7 linked regions of the Homo sapiens genome follow. The protein of the gene in region 1 purifies or fractionates together with the protein of each later gene. This does not show direct contact. Each region holds a gene or a part of one and is shown in the gene's direction. Other genes may lie near its edges.

What was found.
Region 2: the proteins of LACTB2 (region 1) and C1orf198 fractionate together in Homo sapiens (co-fractionation; one large-scale study listed by BioGRID). This does not show direct contact.
Region 3: the proteins of LACTB2 (region 1) and PALM2AKAP2 fractionate together in Homo sapiens (co-fractionation; one large-scale study listed by BioGRID). This does not show direct contact.
Region 4: the proteins of LACTB2 (region 1) and SSU72 fractionate together in Homo sapiens (co-fractionation; one large-scale study listed by BioGRID). This does not show direct contact.
Region 5: the proteins of LACTB2 (region 1) and RAB11FIP5 fractionate together in Homo sapiens (co-fractionation; one large-scale study listed by BioGRID). This does not show direct contact.
Region 6: the proteins of LACTB2 (region 1) and PPIL1 fractionate together in Homo sapiens (co-fractionation; one large-scale study listed by BioGRID). This does not show direct contact.
Region 7: the proteins of LACTB2 (region 1) and MSRB2 fractionate together in Homo sapiens (co-fractionation; one large-scale study listed by BioGRID). This does not show direct contact.

What each region holds. Positions count from the first base shown.
Region 1 is NC_000008.11:70,662,686-70,666,185, reverse strand, and holds part of LACTB2 (endoribonuclease LACTB2), read left to right. Parts: intron 1-2,906; exon of another isoform or gene 2,907-3,500.
Region 2 is NC_000001.11:230,865,722-230,869,802, reverse strand, and holds the start of C1orf198 (uncharacterized protein C1orf198), read left to right. Parts: upstream 1-1,281; 5' UTR 1,282-1,290; coding exon 1,291-1,623; exon of another isoform or gene 1,624-1,999; coding exon of another isoform or gene 2,000-2,005; intron 2,006-4,081.
Region 3 is NC_000009.12:110,157,698-110,161,197, forward strand, and holds part of PALM2AKAP2 (PALM2-AKAP2 protein isoform 3 (PALM2-AKAP2)), read left to right. Parts: intron 1-3,500. UniProt on the Homo sapiens protein: Binds to regulatory subunit (RII) of protein kinase A. May be involved in establishing polarity in signaling systems or in integrating PKA-RII isoforms with downstream effectors to capture, amplify and focus diffuse, trans-cellular signals carried by cAMP.
Region 4 is NC_000001.11:1,572,064-1,576,257, reverse strand, and holds the start of SSU72 (RNA polymerase II subunit A C-terminal domain phosphatase SSU72), read left to right. Parts: upstream 1-1,394; 5' UTR 1,395-1,700; coding exon 1,701-1,780; intron 1,781-4,194. UniProt on the Homo sapiens protein: Protein phosphatase that catalyzes the dephosphorylation of the C-terminal domain of RNA polymerase II. Plays a role in RNA processing and termination. Plays a role in pre-mRNA polyadenylation via its interaction with SYMPK.
Region 5 is NC_000002.12:73,106,449-73,109,948, reverse strand, and holds part of RAB11FIP5 (rab11 family-interacting protein 5), read left to right. Parts: intron 1-3,500. UniProt on the Homo sapiens protein: Rab effector involved in protein trafficking from apical recycling endosomes to the apical plasma membrane. Involved in insulin granule exocytosis. May regulate V-ATPase intracellular transport in response to extracellular acidosis.
Region 6 is NC_000006.12:36,868,304-36,871,803, reverse strand, and holds part of PPIL1 (peptidyl-prolyl cis-trans isomerase-like 1), read left to right. Parts: coding exon 1-86; intron 87-3,500. UniProt on the Homo sapiens protein: Involved in pre-mRNA splicing as component of the spliceosome. PPIases accelerate the folding of proteins. Catalyzes the cis-trans isomerization of proline imidic peptide bonds in oligopeptides. Catalyzes prolyl peptide bond isomerization in CDC40/PRP17.
Region 7 is NC_000010.11:23,109,079-23,112,578, forward strand, and holds part of MSRB2 (methionine-R-sulfoxide reductase B2, mitochondrial precursor), read left to right. Parts: intron 1-1,163; coding exon 1,164-1,240; intron 1,241-3,500. UniProt on the Homo sapiens protein: Methionine-sulfoxide reductase that specifically reduces methionine (R)-sulfoxide back to methionine.

The sequences.
Region 1 (3,500 bases):
CAGCACCTAGCACAGAGCCTTGTACACAGTTCAGGTAGAACAGTAAACAGTTGCTGAATGAATGAGCATTCTGTACATTTTCTCTTAATTTTCACTATTATGACTCCAGAACTGCTGGATAACTACAGTTTTAGCTGGTCTTCCTTCCTCATCTGATCAGCCCATGGAAGCCAAATGAATTTCACTAAAACACTGCTAGACCTAACTGTGATGCTTAGTACATAGGTACTCAATAAGCATTTGAATCAACAAATGACAGCCAAATTGTCCAGTGTTTTTACTTTCCTCCTCTGCTCAAGAACCTTTAAAAACTGCAATTTTAACCTTTCCTATCAAAATTGTACATACTTTGTGGGCAGACAGTGTGGCTGATAATAGAAAAAGGTAGTCAAGTGGAATAGAATTAAAACTCTGGACTCTGGTTACCTCGATTAGAATCCTGGTGCCATTTACTAGCCATATGACTTTGGACAAGACAGTTCTAAGCTTCAGATTCCTGATACAACCCAATGAAGGTTGTGTAGTACCTACCTCATTGGATTTTATAAGGGCTCAGTGAAATTTAAGTGAAAAAACGTATATGAAAAGCACTTAACAAGTTCTAGCACGTGGAAAACATACCATGTTAGCCATTATGTTTATCACTTCTGCTTTCCTCATAACATCTAGATAACACTGTGCTCATAGTAGGTGTTCAGAAAATATCTAATGATTTTATAAGAGTGACAGCAAATAGAGACCAGTTAATAGCTATCTTAATATTGACATGAAATACCTATAACAAGGAATTTGATTCTACTAATTTTCCATCAATTAAAAATTTTTTTCTCCATTCATGTAGCAAACAGTTATTGTGTGCCTACTATGTGCCAGGCACTTTGCTCTAGTGAATAAATCGTTCATAGACCTATACAGATTCATCCATACTCTTCCCTTGAGCCCTTCATTAGCATAATTTGCATTTGCAAAATGACCTCCTGAGATAGGGATATTATTATCTGTGGCCAAGAAGAACAAAGTCAACTAGCCCATGTAGAGATGATACTATCCAATCATCTATTATAACTATTTACAGACATCACTGATAGAGTAACTGTTTGCTAAGGGAGAAACTGATAACATTTTTTTCAATTTCAAAACTGATAACAGTTTTTTCAAATGTATAGCTGAAGTTTTATTTTTGCCACATAATGATTCTAAGCACTTAACCTAAGCAATCCCCTTCTGCTAGAGAGGCAGTGTTTTGAATGGAGAAGTCACTGGACCTTGTATCTGAACATCTAGTGCTTCCTAGCACTGCCTCTTGCTGGTTATATGACCTGGAGCAAATCACTTAGCCTTTCTGAAGATAAGTTTTCTATAAAATAAATAATTAATAAAGTAATAATACCTCCCTAGAGTTGATATGAGGATCAAAAGAAATAGTAAATATGAAAGCCCCAAATGGTTTAAATTGCTATGTCAATGTCATATGTTATCAGTGTGACTTTTTTTTTCCCTCAAAGCTTGGTGCAAACTCATGTTTTAGGTTTTATAGTATCTAGACACCCCTCCTTTGTTCTGAATAGATTGTATTAATTCCAGAACTTTTTTCTGTTTTCTTTCTTTTGAGAGCCCTTCTTTTATCAATTCCAATTTTGTTAAACCAAGACAGGACCATTAAGAGACCTAAAACTGGAGCCCCAGAAACATGTTCTCCACTACCACAGTCGTATGGTCACTCACACTTTCACCTGCAAACAACCAGCACAGGCATTCTAAAAGATCTGTTTTCTTTGCTACTAGATTTTATCAAATTCATGTATCAACCCTGTTAATTTTGTCATGACTTTTGATCAGTGTGATGTGATCTGGTCATTAAATTACAGAAATTTATATTCATTTTTAGATTAGGAGATATTTCAAAACAGAGTTTCTTGGGAGGACGGGAAGGCAAGGATTAAGAAATAATTTTAAAAGTGGTGGGGCCTTGATGGATTGAAAAAATTTGAGCCTTACCTGAAGCATGGAAGTATTCTTTTTGTGAGGACCAGAAGACCCACAAAAATAGTCCCAGTGACTCTACGTTAGGGGCAGTGAGAATTTGTGGTAAATAACTGCAAATGCATGGAGGCAGCCAAAATCTAGGATGGGTGGGCTAGAGAGTATTATTGGAGGTATCATAGTATTATAGTCTTGTGTATTTTAATTTAGCATAACTAAATATGCACAATGCTAAGTGCAGTACAATGTATTATGGATATAGAAATAAATCCATAAATTCCTTGAACCAAACAGACAAGCTTTCTGCCCTGAAGGGACTCAAATTTGTACGGTGGTGTTGGTTGTGGAAATAGGCAATAAAAAAATAAATATGTAAATACATAATATATTACATGGTAATAATTGCTATGGAAAAAAAGCAAGATAAGATGGCTAGGAATAGCATCAGAACTCACTCTGACCCGAGTCAAACTCATCTCAAATTTGCTCCCTCCAGGGTTTACCTTCTTGATTAATGGCACACCAATCCTCCCACCTAGAAACCTCAGAGTCGCCAACTGTTTCCCTCCTTCCACATCTCGTTGTTTAACAAATATCCTGGTGGTTGGTTGATTGTACCTTCTAAATGTTCTTAAAGCCATCTCTTCCTTACATTTCCACTACCAACAGAACCCTATAATAAATGCCCTCTTGGTCCAGTGTAACCATCTGGTCTCCTGTCTCCGGATAGGACAGTTCAACACTGTGTTTCTGAAGGACATCTACTGTGCTACAGAACATAGGGTGCAGATAGAAGCCAATGGGCTATGAGGCCATTACCCTCCTCCCTTATGAGAGGCCAGTTTGTTTTTGTTGGCTCTGGGTCTCAGGGAGTAGGGTTAGGGAAACAAACCAATAAAAAATAACCATCCAGTTACTCACTGTTTAATTTTAATGCTTTGCAAAATGCTTTCTATGGTATGTTACTTTTATTGTTTATTTCCAGTCATATGCAGTTCCCCTTCTCACCAACAGTTGAATGTAAGCAGGGTTGTTGTGTCCTGCTTACTGCAAGAAACAAATTTGTAGCACATATTAGGTAATCCATAAACAGTTATTGATCAATTAATGAATAACTCAGACTTTTCATCAAGGCTAATCTGTCAGCCAGCCTGAATTATTGAGGTGTTACTGTGAAACAGTATGAGTGAAGAAGTTTGTGAATTGGATCTTGAGCTGGGCATGGTGGCTCAACGCCTGTAATCCCAGCACTTTGGGAGGCTGAGGTGGGAGGATTGCTTGACCCCAGGAGTTAAGAGACCAGCCTGGGCAATATGACGAAACACCATCTCTACAAAAAATACAAAAATGAGCCGGGCATGGTGGCACATACCTGTAGTCCCAGCTACTCAGGAAGTAGATGTGGGAGAATCGCTTGTGCCCAGGAGGTCAAGGCTGCAATGAGCTGAGATCGCAACACTGCACTCCAGCCTGGGTGACAGAGCAAGACCCTGTCTCAAAAAAAAAAGAATTGGATC
Region 2 (4,081 bases), on another chromosome or scaffold:
TCATAAATAATCCGCCACTTACTGTGGAGACTATATTTGGTGGTGCTTGCCTTTCCCTGCTTCAATATATTATGTTGTGAACATTGTTGATAATAATGTCTTTAACTGTAGAGCCTGCCACATTCATGACATTCCAAAAATATTCTGAGGATTTCTGGGCCGGAAGATGAGGCCATCTCACATTTAAAATAGGACTTTGCAAGTTATTTCTACTTTTGTGTTCAGAACTATCCAGGCAAAGACCCTGGATAACAGCTGAAATGCTGGTTTTTGTTTTTGTTTTTTTATTTTACGAGTGGACACAATTCTCACCTGAGTCCTGTTAGTCTTGTTAAAATCAGTCAGATGGAGAGAGGGGCTTGGGGGAAGTGGGGGCTCGCTATAATTTTAATTTTGTGGTCTGTCTGGGACACACCTCAAAATTACAAACCCTGGCCCCCTACCTGTTGGGATGTCGCCTCTGAGTCTGAAAACTTTCTGCTCCTCTTTGGTTTGTTTGCAAACGTCGAACTGCCAAGAGTTCTGAGCTCCTTGGGTTGGGGAAAGGCACCTGGGCCACCGGGTACTTCATGCACCCACCTGGCCCCGAGGGGCGGCGGGAGCTGACTTTCCTTGAGCACCAGATGCCCCGAACCGGTCCAGCCTTCCAGGTCGCCCTCCAGCCTCCGGGCTGCCCTGCGCCCCCGGCTATCTGCAGCTCACCGCGCCAGGCCCCGGGCCCAGCGTCCTGGACGGGCCCAGAGAAAGCAGAGAAGGTGTGGCTCGTCCCAGAAAGGGACAGAAGGAAAGGAGTAAAAACAGAAGCCAGGCAGCCAGCGGCTTGGCCTGAAATGCTGGGGCTTTCTTAGGCTCACTGGAGGTTGAAAAAAGTTTCCTTTGTCAAGCAGTGGCCACGTGGCGCTATGGCGGTCACTACCGGGAATTAACCACGGCCACCCTCTCAGAGCGCCGGGCGCGGACTCAGGGACACGCCGGCTACCACCTGAGCCGGGTAAGGGGAGCCCGAAACCTGCGGGCACCGCGGTAATCCACTATGGAGGCGTAAAGGGGGACTCGTGGGGTCCGCGAGGGGGTGGCGGGGGGGGGCCCGGAGGGAGGAGCTCCCGGGGAGGGGGCCACGGAGGGCCGGGGTCCCGGGGCTTGGGGAGCTGGGTTGGCTTGGAGACCCGGGTACGCGGCGGTGCAGGGCGGGGTTCCCGGAGGGGGCGGGGCTCCGGGTGGCGCGGGGCGGGGCGAGGGCGGGCACAGCGAGGGGCGGGGCGCGGGCCGGGAGCGGCGGGCAGGCCGGGCATGGCGTCCATGGCGGCGGCGATCGCGGCTTCGCGCTCGGCGGTCATGAGCGGGAACCGGCCTCTGGACGACCGGGAGCGAAAGCGCTTCACTTACTTCTCGTCGCTGAGCCCCATGGCCAGGAAGATCATGCAGGACAAGGAGAAGATCCGCGAGAAGTACGGGCCCGAGTGGGCGCGGCTGCCGCCCGCGCAGCAGGACGAGATCATCGACCGGTGCCTGGTGGGGCCGCGCGCCCCGGCGCCCCGAGACCCCGGGGACTCGGAGGAGCTCACGCGCTTCCCCGGCTTGCGCGGGCCCACGGGCCAGAAGGTGGTGCGCTTCGGGGACGAGGTAGGTGCGGGCCTGGCCGCGGACCCTCTTCCCCTCCCGGCGCCCCGAGGCGCCCCGGCCCGGTGGGCACCTGCCGGCGTGAGGCCGCCCCAGCTGGTAGGGGCTGGAAAAGAAAAGGCAGGAATGGCAGTGGGTGGGAGGGGAGCCCCAGAGCCGAAGTTCGGGGGGTGGGGGCTCCGCTGGGGGAGTTGGTTAAGAGATCGCCGAGAGGTGGGTCGTTAAAGAACCTCCATCTAGACCTGATCCGCCGGCTCGCACGGACTCCAGAGACTTCTCCCGGAGCTGTCGTAAGCGAGGCTGACCAAAGTGGAAACAACAAGCAATTTTAAACCAGACAAGCCTGGGTTTTAATCCAGCTCTGCTACTTACTACCTGTATGGCGGTGGGTCAATTAACTTCTTAGAGCCTCAGTTTCCACTGTGTAAAACGGGGGTAATAACGCCACCCCGTGCCTGCCCGTGAAGGGACTGAGCAAATGATATATACTAACATGAATACTTGTGATGAGATGTATGGGGAAAGTAAAATTGCCAAGCCAGGTAACAAGGAAGAAAAGGTGTCTTCCAAGATAAGGAGGGAAACCCATCCATCACCCTAAGATGTTTTCCAAGTGAGCACAATGCCCAGCGTATGTTTTAAGGGTGAGCATGGTGGCCCTGTTTTCCACCAAAAAACTAAGGGACGATAAGTTTAAATGAGCTCCAGTAAGTCTTGGCCACATAACAGGGCATGTTTAGGTCTCAGATCTAGACACTGTCCAGACTGCTAGAGGGACAGTCATTTGTGAAGGTAGAAACGCTGAATCTGTTCCAGAAAAAGCTCAGGGATGACCCACACTTAGTCACAAACGCCTGAATCTTCTGTAGGGTTCAGAAACTTGGTCTTCTTTTTCTTAGAAATGTGTTTAACCGAAGCCTGTTTGGTGCCATTAGAATTTGCACTGTGACTCTTTGGCGTTTCAAACTCAACTTTTGCCGTGAGGAGCAAAGTCAAGCTGAGCAAAGAGTGTAGGAATGAAATCGCTCGCTGTTAAGGCTGTTTCTTGGGCTAGAGGAAGGAGAAGCTGGGAGAGATTTTTTCCGAGGAAGTTGTGGATTGTGGATGGAATTCAAGTTAAGGAGGTTTAGATCAGATTTTCAGGCTTGGGTGTGCTGAGACATTTATTAATACGAAGTGTTCATGGTCATAAACCCACTTTAATGTGAGGGAAAAGTGAAATGACTGAAGGATGCTGCCAGTGTTTCTTTATTCTGATGGAATCAAAAGGAAATTCTCTACTGGACTTCAAATTCTGATGGCTTTGCCAGGAAAAACAAGGGTGTGGTAAACTGGGGAGGGGAAAATATAGGTTTTAAAATGTATTCCTAGAGCTGAAACATTTTCAGTGGGAAAATAGGCGTATTTATAAAGACTTGTGTGCAGTGTTTGCGCCCAGATTTGGGGGATGAAAAAGCAGGCAGCACTCCTTTGGAAGAGTCACGAATAAATATGACAGGAAGTAAACTTCTAAGTACTTACAAATGTTGGAGAGTGACTGTCATTTTCCCTTAGCTTGGTGTCCAGCTAAGAATATCTACACGCCTACTCATGATGAAAAAGCCCATGTCATAGAAGAGCCCAGTATTACTGACAAGGAAGAATGTGGCCAAGTTAATTTTTTATTCTCATTCCTCATCTGGTGCCAGACTGAGCCGTTTCTGAATTTGTAAACTCAATGTGATTTAAAAGCAAGTGGAACTGTGCCGTGCTGTGGTGCCTGTATGTCCTTCCAGGAGTAACTCAGGAGAATTGAATCTCAGCTTTGCAAAACCAGCTGAGAGCATGTTCTGAAATGCCTCTGACCAGCCTCAGCTCAGACAGCAGAGGGGCAGATAGACCCTGAATTTTAACAGAGGTACATAGGAACATGGCCCAGGGTACATTTTTGCCTGCAGTGTCTGCGTAGGTTAATAGCAGTAGGGAATTTAAATTCCCCTGGACTGCGCCAGAGGTAGGCACCAAAGTGGAGTCAGTTGTCTCATTGTTGTCCCCAGGAGATCATTCATGGAGGAGGGCCAGCTCCTGGGCACAGGGATGATGGATAAGGACAGGATAGGCTGCTGAACAGAGGTACCCCCAAATAGGTGACCCCAAGTTTGTCCTAAAGGACTGTAAACTAGATAGAGTGGGGCCCAATGTCTCTTCCCACTTGATCAGTCTTCTGATGTGGTCCTGGGGCCTCCACAGCCCTTTCCGCTGCCCTGAAGGACACTGCCTATTTCTTTGAATGGTATCCTCTCCCCCATTGCCAGTAATGTTTTTCTATCTCACATAGCAACGTTTTAAGTCAGAGCATGCAAATACAGCCTCCAAATGTGGTGATCATCTTCTAGACATTTCTTGTGTATTGCAGGAACAAATAGAAATTGATTATATGATGCTGATCACAGATCTTGGTGGTTTTGAATGTGGTCAGGGG
Region 3 (3,500 bases), on another chromosome or scaffold:
CCTGCCTTTCACTCTTGAAAGTGTCCCAGTTTGGGTGATAAACCATCTGGTCACCTTAAACTTGAATGCTATGAAGTTCACAGTAAGAATTCCCTGCTGTTTTATTGCCTTTTATATCCTAGCTGGCTAAGTTAAAGGATTTCTGGAGTTGAAGCCCAGATGCTGAAAGTTGCTTTCAAAATATATGGCGGTAAAGAAAGGAAGAAAGCAAATGGATATCTGGCAGCCTGGCTTCTCACTTGGCATCTCCCAGGCTTTCCCTTTTGTTTACACCTGAACTGCGTGGAGCACTGGCTCAGCTGCTGTATTAGGCTGCAGCTATTCTACTGGGCTCTTCACTGTATTAGACAGTGGGATGATGCCCGGCCCTGGGTAGCTGCTGCAGACATTTCCACTGCTGAACCTCACTGTAGGGGAGCCAGCAGCTCCTTTCGTGAGCCTGCAGGATTTTTCCCTGGCTACTCAGTCACTTTCACCAGCCCTTCTTTGAAGCCCCACTTCAAAGGATAAAGTTTGCCTTAAGAATTTTCTGAAAGTTAAATCATTTTGAAACTTGGTGCTCTAGGTGTCTGGTTTCTTTTCTCCCAGTGACTCTGCTCTATACATCAGCAGTTTTGGTAGAATTTAGCCAAGTGGGTGCCCCACACTCTGATGTGGATGGGGAAGAACAAGTAGAACCACTTAGCATGTGACCCACGCGAGTGTTTGCTGAACACACTCTACTTGTCACTTGTGTATGTCTTTTGTGTTGGAGTGCAGATGATAGGGAAAAATACTCCATACAGAAGGGTAGAGGCAGTTCTCACTCATTTCGTAAAGGCAGAGGGCTGGAAGCTCTTTTGTGCACACGCTGACACTCTGGCAGCCACCTAACAAATGCCAACCAGGTTGAGTTTTTCCTCTGCATGAATGAAGCTGCTTGGAATCAGCGTTTTAATATGCTGATTGCCCTTCACTTACAAATCAAAGAGGCAGCCTCCTGTCTCTATATTTTCCAGTAAATAAACATTTTGAAAAAGAAAGAGACCTAACTAATTAAGCTGTTAATATCCCTGGATCTTGGATTCAAAGCCAAATGTTTTGCACTGTTATTGCTATTACAACAGAACCAAGTTTGCTGTTGTTGAAAATTCTTAGGATCAGGACAAAATCTACCAATCCACTATATGCTCATTTAAGAGACCCAAATCTAAAACAACAAATTCAGATTGCTTCTAAAGCAAAGATATGATCATCAGTCAGGCTTCAAATGAGAGCCTTCTCCTAGCCCTTCCAATTTAGGGGACCTTTTCTCCTGTATCTGTGTCAATCACTGGTGAATGTGTTGAAGTTTACCTGTAGGGATGAACAAACATTCATTTTTTTCCTAACCAATCTGTGGCCCCTTTTCCATTTTTTCTTTTTCTTTAATACCAGAAGGATAGTAATAGAGAGCAGATGGATTGCTGGGGGGATGAGTTGTGTAACTGGCTTACCTATCCGTAGAAGCATAAAGTTAATTCTCTTAAAGGTAAAGTAATTCTGGTCTCTAGCCTCCATTTACATACACTATTCTCACAGAGAAACATGGCTTCTTAGACTCTCCACCCTCTAAGCACCTCAGTGGCTCACACCTACACACCCAGCATCTCCCCATGTTATGCAGCATCACCCCTGGCACCTCCATTTGCCAATATTTTTTCCAGTAAGCCACTTGGCAGCATTTTGGCATGCCGTTTTGGAGATGATAAACCACACCTGAGAATCAATGCCTGTCGCGTGATTAGAACACAACCATGTGTTTGCCCATCGAAAGTAACAGTTATTTGTGAATTGAGCAAAAATAATTCTTATTTTTTATTCTTTTTAAGGAGAAGGCAGAGTTAAAAACAAGACAGGCGCTGATCATTGGAATGTGTATAAAGTGTGATATGTTAGACACAATGGTATCGAGGAGAGTGAAAGACAGAAGGAGAAAGATAGAATGTAGCTACGGCTGAAGTTTTGCTGAGTGAGAAAAACTGATCTTTGCCATCAAAACAAGTTCAGTGTCCCCCGAGCCCCCATCAGGGGTGTGGTGGCCTCTGGGGTCCTGTCCACAGGGACTCAGCTCAGGGCCCTGCTCTCTCCAGTTTTCCACTTTATAAAAAGTCATATGCAGAGAGGCCCCTGGCTTATGGGAGTCAGGGAGTGGTGTTATCCAAAGGTTGTCCCCAACCAGCCATATTTGTTACTAGCTCAGAACTTGAGCAAAGTACTCCCTTTAGTTGCCACAGTCTTCACCCACCTGGGCTGATTTCTTTGTCCTGTATATTGGAGTCACCAATGAGTATCTCCAGCCTCACTTATTAATGGACCTCTTGGCTAATTCTGAGGGCAGGAGGATTACCATCCCCACCCCTACCCACTTACCCAAGGCTGTTTACCAACCTATGCAAGGCCTTTGTGTGAATTAGGAAAAAAAACCACCCTTGTTCCTCTATGAAGATATGAAGATGCAGCCCTGCACCAGCCACACATTTGGGGGGTAGAGTAGGGGACTGGGCTTTAGTACCATTCATCCCTTTAGTCTGATGCTTTTGTGCAGTGCACACAACACACACCCAGATGCAGCAATCCTATTCATATTGTGGGTTTCTCTTATCTGGAAATGTTCTCTTATGTGGAAATGTCCACTTATCTGGGTCTCATACCATTTCTGCTCAGTCATGCAATTCATAATGGACTAGTGAATCCTAGTTTCCTAAAGGGCTTCTTGATGCCTTGCAAAGCGACTGCCTCCAAGGTGGGGTTGCCCACTCATGGACCTGGAAGACATTTGGATCAGTGGGCACAAATGATGGGCTATTTGGATGTTTTTCCTTCAGGCATGAAGAACCCCTCTAGGAAACTCTGATTCATTAGTCCATCCTGAGTGACATGACTGTATTTAGGCAAACAGTATTTTTCCAGCCAATTGTTTCCCTAACCTGACCTGAGCCTCAGAAAGTGAAGATGATGGGTCATTGAGTCAATGATGCTCATGAACATCTCGAGGGTTTGCTTTGCCTTTCTCAGTTGAAGGGATGCTGACCAGAGTCCAAATCACAGCCTCCTGGATGTTCAGCCCCATCTTTACTTTTAGCGCAGGATCTGCCCTCAGTGGGGTTTTCCAGTGTGCTCTCTCTCTCTTTCTCATCCCATGACTTCATTACTGAGAGGTCATCCAACCACTCTGTCTCATCTTAGAACAAGAGAAGACCTCGTCGGTTTTCCTGGGCTACGTCAAAGCTGAGAGTTCCTGGCACACATTACCCTTCCAGACCAGGACATGCATTGAGAGTTGTGGCCATACTCTCGCTCAGTGTGTGAAGGAAGCCTATCTGCCTCCTGTTTCCCCAGACGCTACAGGAAGCTCAGTGATGCCTTGTGCTTCCCTAACTCTCTCTTACGTTCTCACTCGTACCCTAGTGAAGATGCAAAGGAGAGAGAAGAGCTCCTGACTTGTCAGCTCCCAGCCATTAGCCCAATCATGACAGAAC
Region 4 (4,194 bases), on another chromosome or scaffold:
ATCTCAATCAAAAGGGGAAAATACCCAAGTTGTCAAATAAAAGTGGACTCACTTATGTTTAAAAAATACCTTGACAAAGACAGCTGGGAAAGGCCATGGAGAATTCTCATGAATCAATAATAAGAAAAACTATCACAAGATTCTGCAAAAACCACAACCTTGCACTAAGGCAATCTTACACAAAAAATACTTCAGCAAGGACAGCTGCCCAGCAACTGCCTGTCCAACCCTGGAACGGGAGTACACTTGTTTTTTTTTTTTTTTAGACGGAGTCTGGCTCTGTCGCCCAGGCTGGAGGGCAGTGGCGCGATCTCGGCTCACTACAAGCTCCGCCTCCCGGGTTCACGCCATTCTCCTGCCTCAGCCTCCCGAGTAGCTGGGACTACAGGCGCCCGCCACCACGCCCGGCTAATTTTTTGTATTTTTAGTAGAGACGGGGTTTCACCGGGTTAGGCAGGACGGTCTGGATCTCCCGACCTCGTGATCCGCCCGCCTCGGCCTCCCAAAGTGCTGGGATTACAGGCGTGAGCCACCGCGCCCGGCCGGGAGTACACTTGTTACTGTTCTTTGTAGCCAAGGTTAATTATTTCCAAACCATTATCTTCCTCTTCATTTTTTCTTTAAAAACCATTACTTTCCTGAATGCGCAAATCGTTTACTATGGCACGCATATTCGCCAACGCCCTATTCCCAAATAAATATCATTTTCAGTTAGCCTGTTATTAGGTTGACAATCATTATCACTCCCTCTCCCGTCCGTGGCGCTCCCACGGCAAAACATCAGCCCACTGTCCACCGCGAGGCTGCATCCAGGCAGACAGGCATAGCTGGGGAATGACACACTCGCGTTGACTGGATTTACTGTAACTGGACCCAAATCTCAGACCAGCCGGCGGCCTCTCCAAGGAAGCCCGAGGCGAGGAAGATCCTAGTCGACGTGCACTCCCAACCAGGTCTGTCACAGGTCGGCCCTCGCATTTAAACGTTAAATGTTGAAGGGCTTTCATAAAAGAGCGATGTGCTCCTGCTTGTATGAGCCGGGGCCGGAGGCCGGTAACAGCGGCACGGGACGGGAGCGAGCCTCAGAATGCGGGAATGTCTGTGGGCCTCCGGGACAGTGGAGGGAGCGGGTCTAGTGAAGCGCGACGACTCTGGGGTGGCAGAAGTGAGGACTATGGGCCCCACGGGGACCGAGGGAACGCACAAAATCGTCCCAAGAGACGAAACGCCGGGCCGCGGAAGGGCCCTCAATGCTATCTCCGGCAAGCGCGGCGTTTCGCATCGCTCCCAAAGGCGGCGGCGACACCTTATGACGTCCTGTTGTTCCGCACGTCGTCGCGTCACACTAGGCGCCGGCGCGGGGTGCTGATGTCAGGACGCCGCCGCTTGGCGCCGTGACGCTCAGCCGGGCCTTGTGGAGTGCGGGTCTCTGCTGCGGACGCCGGGGGCCGGCGCGGCGTTGGCCGCCCCCGGCCTCGCCGAGTGCAGCGCGCCCGAAGGCCAGTGCCTGCGCTCCGTCCGCGGCCCGGCGCCCAGGGTGGGCGGGGAGGCCGCCGCGCAGTCGCCGCACGCTACACCGCCGGCGCCGTCGTTTCGCGTCGCCCGCTTCCGGCCACCGCGGCCGCCATTTTGTTCGCGCGGAAGCGCCGCGGTAGGGTGGGAACCCAAGCGGGAGAGCCGCGGGATTTGCGGCCGCCGCCATGCCGTCGTCCCCGCTGCGGGTGGCGGTGGTGTGCTCGAGCAACCAGAACCGGAGCATGGAGGCGCACAACATCCTCAGGTAGTTGGGCTCCACCCTGTCCCCGCGCGCTCTGCTCCGGCGACCGGCCCTCCCTCCTCCCCGGTTCCCCCTGGCCCGCGCCAGGACCCCTGAGAGGAAGCCGGGCCGGGCCGCGCTCGTGGGTCGGCTGGTTGGGATGGCAGCTGGACGGCAGCGCGCGTAGTCCACACGCGGGTGGGCATCACAGGGAAGGCAGGTTCCGGGACGAGGCGCCCGCTGTCCGGTGGTCCTTCGAGCTCTCCGAGGCCGGGCCCGGGGGGCGAGGGTAGCGTCCGCGGCGAGGGGCTGCGCGGCGGCGGCCGATCATGGTATTTCGTGTGCGTCGTTGGCCACCTTCCCTGGAAACGGCGCGCAACACAATCACGGCATACCACGATGTTGTAAATAACAAAGCGGTCTCTTTTTTTAATGCCATGGATTTGTGTGTTTGCTACTTCTTCTTCTTTTTTTTTTTTTGCGAAAGATCCTCTCTTCCTCCCTGGAACGCCTCCAACCGGTAGTTTCTGGAATACAACGTGGACTTGGTTTGGCTCTGCTAGTTTATATTCCCTGCTAACTGGCCGCCTGTGACTCTTGCGTAGCGTATGTCTAATGAAAGTTTATTCCTGCTTGATAACAAGTTTTTTGTTCAGTCACATAGCAAACTGAGAAACTGACCACTTGACTTACAGTTAAAATTTGGTATGTGTCAACTTTGATAGTAAGAAAGTTGAAATGGCTTTTTTACCTCCAAAGTTACCTACGTGAACTTTAAATGAAAACAGTGTTTCGCTTCTCTTCTCGCAGTCCAGCTATAACTTTCCTGAGCAACTTGGGAAAATTAACAGTCCCCCTTTTTTTTCCGTTTTTAACAGTGTCACGTGGGCCAGGCACGGTGGCTCACGCGTGTAGTCCCCGCACTTTGGGAGGCCGACGCACGCGGATCACCTGAAGTCAGGAGTTGGAGACCAAAAAACACCCCCCAAAAATCAGTGTCAAGTGTTCATGATCTGCTGATTCTTTCTCTTTATTCTTTTCTTTCTTTTTTTTTTTTTTTTTTTTTTTTTTTGAGACAGAGTCTTGCTCTGTCGCCCAAACTGGAGTGCAGTAGCGCGATCTCGGCTCACTGCAACTTGTGCCTCCCGAGATCGAGCTATTCTCCTGCCTCAGCCTCCCGAGTAGCTGGGACTACAGGCACCGGCCACCAGGCACGGCTAATTTTTTTTTTTTTTTGTATTTTTAGTAGAGACGGAGTTTCATCATCTTAGCCAGGATGGTCTTGATCTTATGACCTCGTGATCTGCCCGCTCGGCCTCCCAAAGTGCTGGGATTACAGGCGTGAGCCACTGCGCCCGGCTTTTTTTGTATTTTTAGTAGAGACGGAGCTTCACCATGCTGGCCAGGCTAATCTCAAACTCCTGACCTCAGGTGATCTGCCCGCCTCGGCCTCCCAAAGTGCTGGGATTACAGGCGTCAGCCACCGCATCCGGCCAAAGGTTGTTTTTAAAACTAGAAATGTGCTAGAATTACATTGTGCTGGATCTTCATTTATAAACTGCAGTTACCTGTAAAAATTTGATACATTTAAGCAAAACAATGCAAGGCTCACCCCCCCCCCCCCAAGACAAAATTATTGTTAATTGGAATAACAAATGGGCTGGAGACCTTCTGGTTCTGCTGGTTCTCCTTGGTGATCCTTTGTTCAAGATTTTCTGCTGTACCTGCATAACAAAGATGGAGTAGGCCGGGCGCAGTGGCTCACACCTGTAATCCTAGCACCTTGGGAGGCCGAGATGGGCGGATCACAAAGTCAGGAGATTGAGACTATCCTGGCTAACACGATGAAACCCCGTCTCTACTGAAAATACAAAAAAATTAGCCGGGCGTGGTGGCGGGCGCCTGCAGTCCCAGTTACTCGGGAGGCTGAGGCAGGAGAATGGCATGAACCCAGGAGGCGGAGCTTGCATTGAGCCGAGATCATGCCACTGCACTCCAGCCTGGGCGACAGAGCAAGACTCCATCTCAAATAAATACATAAATAAAATAAAGTTGGAGTAGAATATATATTTTTTTTCTTGAGGGGGAGTCTGTAGCCCAGGCTGGAGTGCAGTGGTGCTATCTCAGCTCACTGCAAGCTCCGCCTCCTGGGTTCACACTATTCTCCTGCCTCAGCCTCCTGAGTAGCTGGGACTACAGGCGCCCGCCACCACGCCCGGCTAATTTTTTTGTATTTTTAGTAGAGACGGGGTTTCACCATGTTAGCCAGGATGGTCTCGATCTCCTGACCTCGTGATCCGCCTGCGTGGGCCTCCCAAAGTGCTGGGATTATAGGCGTGAGCTACTGCGCCTGGCAAGATGGAGTAGAAATCTTAACAAAAGGAAATGTTTTAAAAATTCTATTTAGGGCTGGGCGCGGTGGCTCACGCCTGTAATCC
Region 5 (3,500 bases), on another chromosome or scaffold:
GGGATGAAATGAAAATGCAGCTTAAGCACCTAGTACAGTCCCTGTACATGGTAGGTGGTCAGTGCAGAGCAGTGATGGTGAAGGGAGATTTTAGTAACAATGTCTGGAAGAGCTTCTTATGGGATGGGGGAGACAGTCTAGAACTTAGAGCCTAGGAAAGCCTTAGGACCATGGGTGACGGAGTACACAGAAGAGTACGAGAGTTCCCAACAAAATGAGCTGGCCCTTTGCAGCTCTCTGTATTCTATTTGCTGCAAGAGGCCCAAGAAATAGGGCTGGGCTTGAGAGGCCTCTGCAGTCCTGAAACCAGGCTCAGATAAGCCCGCAGCTCTGCAGCTCTCCTCCCTGGCAGCCCTGCCTGGAGCTGCCCCTGCCCTGTTGGGAAGGAAGGATGGCCCAGGGCTTAAAAACCTGGAGACTGGGATTTCACTCCCCGTTCTGTGACTTACCAGCAGACAGGTTACTTATCCCACTTCCTCACTTTGAAAAAGGTCATGATAATAATCATAGAGTTGTACAGATTAGATAAGACACCATCTGTAAAAGCCTTAATGTAGTTCTGGATACATAGAAGCTCTCAAAATATTAGCGTGGTGGTGACTCTGGGGCCCCATTTTGTGTGATGGTGGTGGCTGGGGTTGTAGGTGCTTCAGCAGCCTCCGAAGGTCTTGTGTGAGTGGGGCAGTCTTTGAAATGAGGAATTTCACCAGAGGCTTCCAAATAATTGAAGAGGATATTCTCAAAACAAAATGTAATGGTAGTACACAAGGAAACTAATGATCTCCCCACCCTCAGTAGAACTGTCCATGGATCGTCATGTTCCTGTTGGTCTGGAAATCCTGGATGCTTCTCTGCGATTTATTTTCTGGTTTTTATCTTCAACATCCTTTTTTTTTTCTTTTTTGAGACAGTGTCTCACTCTGTTGCCCAAGTTGGAGTGCAGTGGCAGAATCTGGGCTCACTTGCAATCTCTCCCTCCCAGGTTCAAGCGATTCTCCTGCCTCAGTCCCCTGAGTAGCTGGGATTACAGGCATGTGCCACCACACCCAGCTAATTTTTGTATTTTTAGTAGAGACTGGGTTTTGCCATGTTGGCCAGGCTGTTCTCAAACTCCTGACCTCAGGTGATCCACCTGTCTTGGCCTCCCAAAGTGCTGGGATTACAGGCATGAGCCACCACGCCTGGCCCAACGTCCTTCTTAGCACTCCCCAGTGGGTGTCCTGTGTTTGCCTCCCTAACTCCCAAGACAGGGATGGGATGTGGTGGTTAGTTAGTTTTCCTTGTTCCCTGTGGGGTCAGATGGGTCATTTGGACCTTTTTGGTCTTTATGCGATTGGTGTGGATCACACCCCCAGGGAATGGACCTGGATATATCAGAAGAGGGAAGGAAGGAAGCAGCAGCAAAGGTTTTGGAGTAAGAAGACAGGGCATCTGCCACAAGGCCATTTTGGTTGGGGAGACCTGGTCTTTGCCCCCTGGAATGCTGGTCTTTGTGTGTTTTAGGAGAGGAGGAGAGAGCACAACTGTGTTATATGGAGCCCCTGTCCACCTTCTCCCTCATCCTGATAAGGGTGAAATGGTCCCTGCGGTAAGGCCTGGAGTGTGGCAGACAGGATCGTCATCCTGGGCCTGTTGGATCAATGGTTAGAAGCTGGCCTCTTGGGAAAGCAAAGGCTGTGGGTTCAGCTTGGGTTGGGATCAGTTTGTCTTTTTTCATCACAAAGACTAAAACTGTTGTGACCATGAATTGTGGCCTGCAAGAGGCTCCGTTCAGCCCCTGCTTAGACTGTGCCACTTGGCAAGGGAGCTCGGAGAGCTGAGGCTGTGAAAGATGTAGGTCTGAGATGAGAGCCTTCTGCCTGGCTGGTCATGGTGTTCTGAGACCTCCTTAGGTGGGTGGGTTTGGGGGCACTGGGAGGCACCTGAGGGGACATGCATCCCATTAGCCTAAGGCTGGGATGGTCTTTGAGGGCTTCCATCTATCCCGTAGCCCACAGACAGCCTGGGCAGACAGTTGGTGGGCAGATGGTGCGTGACCCCACAGCCTTCTCTCTGTTGGCTTCTGGGTGTGACTCTGCCCCTCGGGAAACAGCTGTGGTCACTTGAGCCCCTGGCCTTGGCTCCTGCTCGGCCCCAGAGCTGGCATGGGAGGCCTGTGGCACTGCTGGGGAGGTCTACTCTGGCTGCAGAGGAAGGGTGTGGCTGCACTCAGAAGCCAGTCGTTGGTATGCCGAGGCTCCACGGCCCTTAGTTATGGGGTGGTTTTTATTTGGGGTTGCTTGAGCAGCAGCGTCTTGGGGTGTGGGGCGGGGTAGGAAGTGTGACTCCTCAGTCAGGCTGGGCAGCTCCTCCTCTCTGGCCTGGCAGCTTCCCCTGCCCTCCCCATCTGCCCCTGGCCCTGAGCCCTGGCTGGGACCAGGGAGTTTCAAGGGGCCTGTGGTCAGCCCCATCTCTGCCCCACCTGTCTCTCCTTGTAGGCAGCTGGCTGCAAGGCACAGCTCAGCAGAGCCACATCCCGGTGACCTTGAGGGCTGTCCTTCTCTGCTGGGAGCTGCCCGCCCCACTTGTCACTGCTGCCACCTCAGTGCTGTGACGCTCTTGTCTAAACCACTGGCCTGGCCTTGTCCAGATGTTCTCCTGCCCTTCTCACCCTACGCAGGGACAGATGATGAATACAAGAACAGAAGCTGTTGTGGCTCTGCTCCAGGGGAAGCAGTCCTCTTTTTCTTTCCTTTGCAAAATAGTGTAGCCATGAAGCAGTTTTGTTCTTCCCCACAGCCAAGTAATAAAAATGAGTCCACATGTGAGTCTGCTGTGCACCTGGCAGTCCCTTCAGGGAAGAGTCTGATCACAGTGCCCTTACTGAGCTGGCCTGAGGTTATTTCTACCTTGGGAACAATGGTGGCCAGAGAGGAGAGGGACTTGGCTGGCCACATGAGGCCTCTGTATGGAGCTGGGCCCCGGCCTCTCAGGAGCAGTAAGTGGGGCCTCCCAAAACGGGGCTCCCAGGGGCAGCCAGCACCTCCGAGAAGCTGCAGGGTGGGGAGGGGGTATCACAGGCCACTGTGACCTTTGGTTCACCTGGTAGTGGAGAAGGGAGCACAGCCCTTACTCATGGGACTCCAGCATGGGAGCTGGAAGAGAGCTCAGACAAGGAAACTGGGGTTTGCAGAGGGAGAGCTGCACACTCTCACTACCCAGCACTTAGTGGAGGGTGTGCTCTGTGTGGTTTCCATTAGACCCGGGCAGCCCACAGAGCTGTAGGATTTGGGGTAAAGAAGAGGTGGCATTTGGAGCCCTGTGTGCACCCCGGAGTTTCTGTGGAAGTGCCTGCCAGGTTTTAGTGAGATGGGGACATTGGGCTTCTCTGCTGACCTGGAAGGGTAGTCCAATCCAAAGGCAGTTCTAGAGGCCTGAAAGGCCAAGAGTGGGCCACTGGTGGGGGAGAGATTCCAAAGGGGGGGAAGCCTGGATATCTCCCTACATTTGGAGGAAGCCCT
Region 6 (3,500 bases), on another chromosome or scaffold:
GGCTCGTCGAGGTTACTACAATGGCACAAAATTCCACAGAATTATCAAAGACTTCATGATCCAAGGAGGTGACCCAACAGGGACAGGTACAGTTAAGCCAACATTAGTTTATGTTTTCTTTTTTTTTTCTCCTTTTCGTCTTTTTTTCTAAAGCCAGCATTAGTTTCTGAAGTCTCTGTCGTAAATAGGTGATAAGGCAGCCAGAGCTCTCTTTTCCACTTACTAAGGTCTGTGTTGGTTGATTCTGGTGACAACGCCTGCCTTCCTCAAACACACATGTGTGGAATTGACCAGAAACCAACCTTTACTCCTAGGCTTGGTAGAGTTTTTCATAACTTACATGTACTGCTCACTAAGAACAAATAATATTTGTCTGAATTATAGTGATGCAAGTAGTCTGATCAATAAGAAGGAAAGACTTTATAATATTTTGAGAATAATAAAATCCTGGGTTCTTTTATCGATTCATTCATTTAACAAATACTGAGTACCTGTTTTGTGTCAGATACTTTTTTAAGCTCTAGGGAGATACCTATAAACAAAGAGACAGAATTATTGCTCTCAATAAAGCAGGAAAAGGGTGTGGGGATGGAATTTTAGTAGAAAAGTCAGGGAACTCCTCTCTGACATTATTGGAGAAGAGATCTGAATGAAGTAAGAAAGTGAACCTTGCAACTGTGGGGAGAACATTTTGGATGGAGGGAAGAGCAAACACAGAGGCCCTGAGGCAGGAACCTGTGCTGGAAATCATAAGATATGATACCTTATAGGGCATGGTAGAGACTGGGTTTTATTCTGAGTAAGATGTGATGTGAGTCATTGGAGAGTTTTGAGCAAAGGAAAGACATGATCTGATCTATGCTTTAAAAGGATCACTCTAGGCTGGGCACGGTGGCTCACGCCTGTAATCCCAGCACTTTGGGAGCCCGAGGCAGTTGGATCATTTGAGGTCAGGAGTTCAAGACCAGCCTGACCAACATGGTGAAACGCTCTGTCTACTAAAATACAAAAATTAGCCGGGCGGGTTGGTGGGCACCTGTAATCTCAGGTTCTTAGTCGGGAGGCTGAGGCAGAAGAATTGCTTGAACCCAGGAGATGGAGGTTGCAGTGAGCCAAGATCGCACCACTGCAGTCCAGCCTGGGTAACAGATTGAGACTCCCTCTCAAATAAATAAATAAATAAAAGGATCACTCTAGCTGCTGTTTAGAGAATAGATGTAGGGGCAAGATGTAAACACTATGTAAATAGTTGTTGTACTGTATTGTTTGGGGAGTAATGACAAGAAAAATAGTTCTATACATGTTCAGTACAGATGCTTCCCCCCAAGATGTTTTCAGTCGCGGTTAGTTGAACCCATGAATGTAGAACCCACATGTAGGGAGGGCCGACTATGCTCATGAGTAAGTAGTTGGATAGGAATATGGGGTTCAGGGAAAGACCTGGTATGGAGGTATTAATTTGGGAGTTACTGGCATTTAGATGGGGTTTATTAGTGAACTGGTGGAACCCTTACTCATTTCAAGGGCCCTTGCTTCTCAGTCTGCTTCTTCTCTGCTAATTTCTGCTCGTTTGCCTTTAAACAAGTTTGGTTTTCTCTATAGCAGAGTCTTTTCTCAGTCTTGTTCTTTTTTGTCATTCTTAATCGTCTCATGATTTATCATCTATGGTCAGAAGCATTCAGGTTTTTGGGTTTTTTTTTTTTTAATGTATATGGATGCATTTCAAAATACAGAATATATAAGAAAGCAGAGAAAAGGGGAAAAATCATTCATAAGCATAGCTCCTAAAGATTTCTAACCATCATTAACTAATCCCTAAATATCCCATCTTTCAGAAAGGAACAGTGTTAACTTTTGGTGCCCATCATGTCTGGTTTAAGGGATGACAGGATAAATGGAAGTAGTTTCAAAAAAATAGGATATATAAGCTATTGTTTTTAAAACAGAACATATTACATTTAATTTCATATATATAGAACAGAATATTTGACTTCCTACAGTGAAAGATGAGGCAATTAGTACTTAAATTTCTACCCATTCTTATTTTTCCCCGACCTTAATTTTTGTTGTTAGTTTTATTATTATCTGTTCTGCACTCATCATTCCTTCAGCTACAGTGTGGGTCCTACGTTTCAGTGTATTTAGTGTTCACAACTTGCTTCGCTTTTACCTTCGCAAGTGCTGGAGGGCAGGATTTCTTGTCTAGTGGTTTTTTAGTGTTTTTTTTTCAGAATGCTCAAGAATCACAATTGTCCAGTGGTTTTTTGTTACAAGAGCTGGAATGTGTTGTATTTTTAAGTTCATTCATGTTTCAGAATTTCTGCCTGTTACTTTTATACTTGAAAAGAGATAGCATGTTGGCATGCTCAGCCCCCTCACTGTGTGATGCACTGTGCCACTTTGGGACTTCACAGAGTCCCCACCAGCAAGAAGGCTCTCACCAAATGTGGCCACTTGACCTTGGACTTCTCAGCCTCCACAACTGTAAGAGATAAATTACTTTTTTAAAATAAATTTTTTAGGCCAGGCATGGTGGCTCACACCTGTAAGCCTAGCACTTTGGAGGCTGAGGCGGGAGGGTCACTTGAGTTCAGGAGTTCAAGACCAGCCTGGGCGACATAGTGAGACCCCGTCTCTACAAAAAATAAAAAATTAGCTGGGCATGGTCGCATATGCCTGTAATCCCAGCTACTGGGAGGCTGAGGTAGGAGGATCACTTGAACCTGGGAGGTTGAGACTGCAGTGAGCCATGATTGTGCCCACTGCACTCCAGCCTGAGCGACACAGTGAGACACTATCTCTAAATAAATAAATTAAAATAAAATAAAAATATTTAAAAGGAAGAAAAAAAGACCATAACTGGGTATAGCATTCTGAGATCTTTTTAGACATTTCTGATCAATTGCCTTCTGGTTTGGTTTTTTGTTGTTGTTTGTTTTTGTTGTTGTTGTTGTTGTTTTTGGAGACAGGATCTTGCTCTGTCACCTAGGCCCAGGCTCGAGTACAGTGATACAATCATGGCTCACTGCAATCTCCATCCCCTGGGCTCAAGCATTTCTCCTACCTCAGCCTCCCGAGTAGCTGAGACTACAGGCATTCACCAGCATGCCTCACTAATTTTTAAATTTTTTATAGAGTTGAGGTCTCACTGTTGCTGAGGCCGGTCTCAAACTCCTGGGCCTAAGTGATCCTCCTGCCTCGGCCTTCCAAAATGTTGGGATTACAGGCATGAGCCATCATGCCTGGCTGCCTTCTCATTTTTGAATATGGTTTTGGAGAATACTGAGGCCAGATTTACTCCTTCCTTTACATCAGGGTTAATTTTTTGATTTCTATTTCTGAATATTTTCTCTGTTATACTTACTGGATTTTCTATTTCAGGAAATATAGTTATTTGTTTCATCACCTTTGCCTTCCATATCTATCATATTTCTTTTGATTGTGTGATAGGATTTTTTTTTCTTTTTTCCCTGCATTCACTAAAATAATCTCAGACCTTT
Region 7 (3,500 bases), on another chromosome or scaffold:
TCACTTGGTGAGCTGTTCTGTGCTCTGGCTTTCCTCTGGCCCATAGGAGGGGACAGTGCCTGCCGCCAGGCCCTGTGATAGCGGATCTTCATGGTCAGCTTGTGCAAGGGTTGTTTTTTATTTAATTTTCTTTGACAGGGGAGATGACAAAAGAAATTGGGCAAAAATGGTCTTTAAAAAAAAGTCATCAGCCGGGTGCAGTGGCTCATGCCTGTAGTCCCAGCATTTTGAGAGGCCAAGACATGCAGATCACTTGAGGTCAGGAGTTCGAGACCAGCCTGGCTAACACGGTGAAACCCCGTAAAAGTACAAAAATTAGCCAGGCGTGGTGGCGTGCACCTGTAGTCCCAGCTATTCGGGAGGCTGAGACAGGAGAATCACTTGAACCTGGGAGGCAGAGGTTGCAGTGAGCTGAGATCGTGTCATTGCACTCCAGCCTGGGTGACAGTGAGACTTCATCTCAAAAAAAAAAAAAAAATCAAGTTTGAGAAATAACATTTTAAAAAATATTGACTTGGCTAATTCATTGACTTGTCTCCTTGTTCTCCTCTCAGAATACCTCTGAAAACTTGCAAACCCTGTAACCCACAATGAACGCAGTAATTTCATCTAAGTAGTAACCTGGGCACTGAGGGGGTGGGGAATCTAGCTCATTATTTAACATTTATTAAGTATGCTGTGTCCTAAACATTATGTGAAGCATATTAAAGGCAAAATGCCTGATCTCACTGAACTATGCTTTTTATGTATTTATATTCTGTCTTTAATTGGAGATTTCAAAGTATGTTAGACAGTGGACTAGATTCCTGTTGTATTAACTCTTTTAAAAGGGAGACCGAAATCTCACACAGTCACAGAGGACAAGACTCTGTTTTCTTGCTTTTTCACCGACTTTGATGCTCTTGGATGAAAAGTCCTGTATGAATACAAAGATTATCAAAGTCATAATTTGAATATTGGGTGCAATAAAGCCCAGGCTGTAAATACATCTGCAGGCTGCTTCATTGGGTACATTATAATTTTCTCTCTGGCGTTATTTGCACTTCGTCAAATTAGTACAGAAATTCCTTGATTTGGGGACTTACCCAGGATTTAAATCTGCTGTTTCAACTCCTGCCAGTAGTATGAGAAATCTGAACATGACATATCTAATTTACTTTCAGCCTTTCAGTGGGATCTACCTGAATAACAAGGAAGCAGGAATGTATCATTGCGTGTGCTGCGACAGTCCACTCTTCAGGTAAGATAAAGAATTGAGAGCCACGGAAGGAGACCAAACCTCCAGGTTCTTACTGCTTTGTTTCATTTGAGATCTTGGATAAATAAATACCCATAATACCCATTTTGTTTTTTAAATTGCTCTTCTCATTTTGCATTGTTGCTGTAAGGAGAGCTATTCATATAAGATACTTGCCTGTCTTGACTTTTTTTTCTAGCATTTAGAGCCATTAACAAGACTTCTTAGCTTATATTCTTCCTTTCTCTATCCTCAAGAAATAGCAAGGAAATAAAACTCAGTGGGCCCCTTATGATAAAGCTATTAGAGTTTTTTTTTTTTTAGAGGGAAAGTATTTAAAGAAATCTAAACCGTGATTATATTTGCTGGGCCATGTGATTAAAACTCTCTCCCAGGGAAAATGGGTTTATAATTTAATTTAGGAAATGTAGAATTTTATGAGGATAGATTCCCCACAATGCTTGACAGTAGCGAATACCATACCCTCTTCTATATAGCTAAAAGTAAACTTATTTGTCCCTTGATTTCAAAGCCTCTTTTAAGTCAATCAGGATCTGAAATCTCTCAACAAAGGCTTTTTTGTTTAGACATGCAGGAAACAGTCTTAAAAAAAAGTAGATTCGATGGAGAAGAAAGGAAAACATCTTTGAAGTCCTATTTTTCAGAACTTCAAAGATGTTTTCCTTTCTTTTGCATCAACCCTAAATTGGTTTAGAATAAAATATAAATCAAGCCAGCTCTGTGCATTGCCCATTAGGCAGTGCTTCCTTCTGTCCTCTGGGCTTTGAGCAGTCTGGGCCTTCCTGCCCGGCTGGCTGCTAATGTGGGCTGCCTTAGGAAGCCGGACCCGCCTGCAAGGATGAGGAGCGATTAGCATCGATTTTCCTCCGTGCTCACAGATGGGCAGGCCTTTGCCCGGATGCATTCACGTTGGCATGGGGGAAACTAGAAGGAGGTTAATTTTTGCACAGTAAAATGTGGGACTCAGGTTTCTGAGACAATAGTTATTTCTTGACCTTTGGTTGTGTTAAAGAGGAGAGGTAGGATTTTGAGATGGCCCATGAGCTTTCAGCCATAGAACCATGCTGCCAGCGTGTCAAGGGCTCCCTTGTTACCGCAGGCACCAGGCAGTGCTCTGTCTCCCTCTTTGCACTGTGAATACAGAAGATAAATCATCCTCGCAAGAGCATTCTCTTAAATCACAGTCTTCACTCTTCCCCTTCCTTGATGTTCCGGTTTCTGCATCTGAAAAAGGGGGGGACTTCTTCCCTTCCTTTCACCTTGCAGGCTTAGTTGTGGTGTCAGAATACTGGAGCCAGGAGGGTCCTGAGTCCAGAGCAGAAAGCTCTGTCCAGTAGAACTTCCTGTGGTGATGGAGATGTCTGTATCTGGCCATGTGGTAGCTGCTCATCACATAAGCTTGTTAAGCACTCAAGGTGTGGCTAGCATGGCTGAGAAGCTGACTTTTTCAATTTAATTTTAATTAATTTAAACTTAAATTTAATTTTAATTAATTTAAACTTAAATTTAATTTTAATTAATTTAAACTTAAATTTAATTTTAATTAATTTAAACTTAAATTTAATTTTAATTAATTTAAACTTTAATTTTAATTAATTTAAACTTAAATGTAATTTTAATTAATTTAAACTTAAAAGGCCACATGTGGCCAGAGGCTACTATATTAGCACAATGCTAGTTCAAATTAAGGAAGTTAAGTGACCAACTCCAGGTCCTGGAGGTTGTGAAGCAGCCAAGACTAATAGGAAAACCAGCCGATTCTCCAAAAGCCCATTGACCAAGTGGCCAGTTTATGAGACTGCCAATTCACTAACTTTATTTGTTTTTGTGTAACCATTTAGTTTGAGCTGAAAAGTTTCCATTTTGCATTCTTAAAGACTTCTGAGTTTGTTTCTCTTCCCCTTTCCTGTTGCTGCTACTGCAGCTGAAGGAAATAATATATTCCTGAAGATTATTTATGTTCCAGAATATACTATTCTTAAAGATGCACTCATTTATGGGAGAGGCAGTAGAATGGTTAAGATTGCCAAGGTGTATATCCTGGCTCCATTGCTGTGTGACCTTGAGCAAATTTCTTAACCTTTCTGTGTCTGATTTCCTCACCTGTAAAATGAAGATAATAGTACCTAATTCATAAGGTTGTTGGGAGGATAATCTGAGTCATGAATTAATACATGGAAAAGCATAGAGCAATGCCTGACATGACTGACTCAGGCCAGGCACTTGATGCAAGTTAGTAATG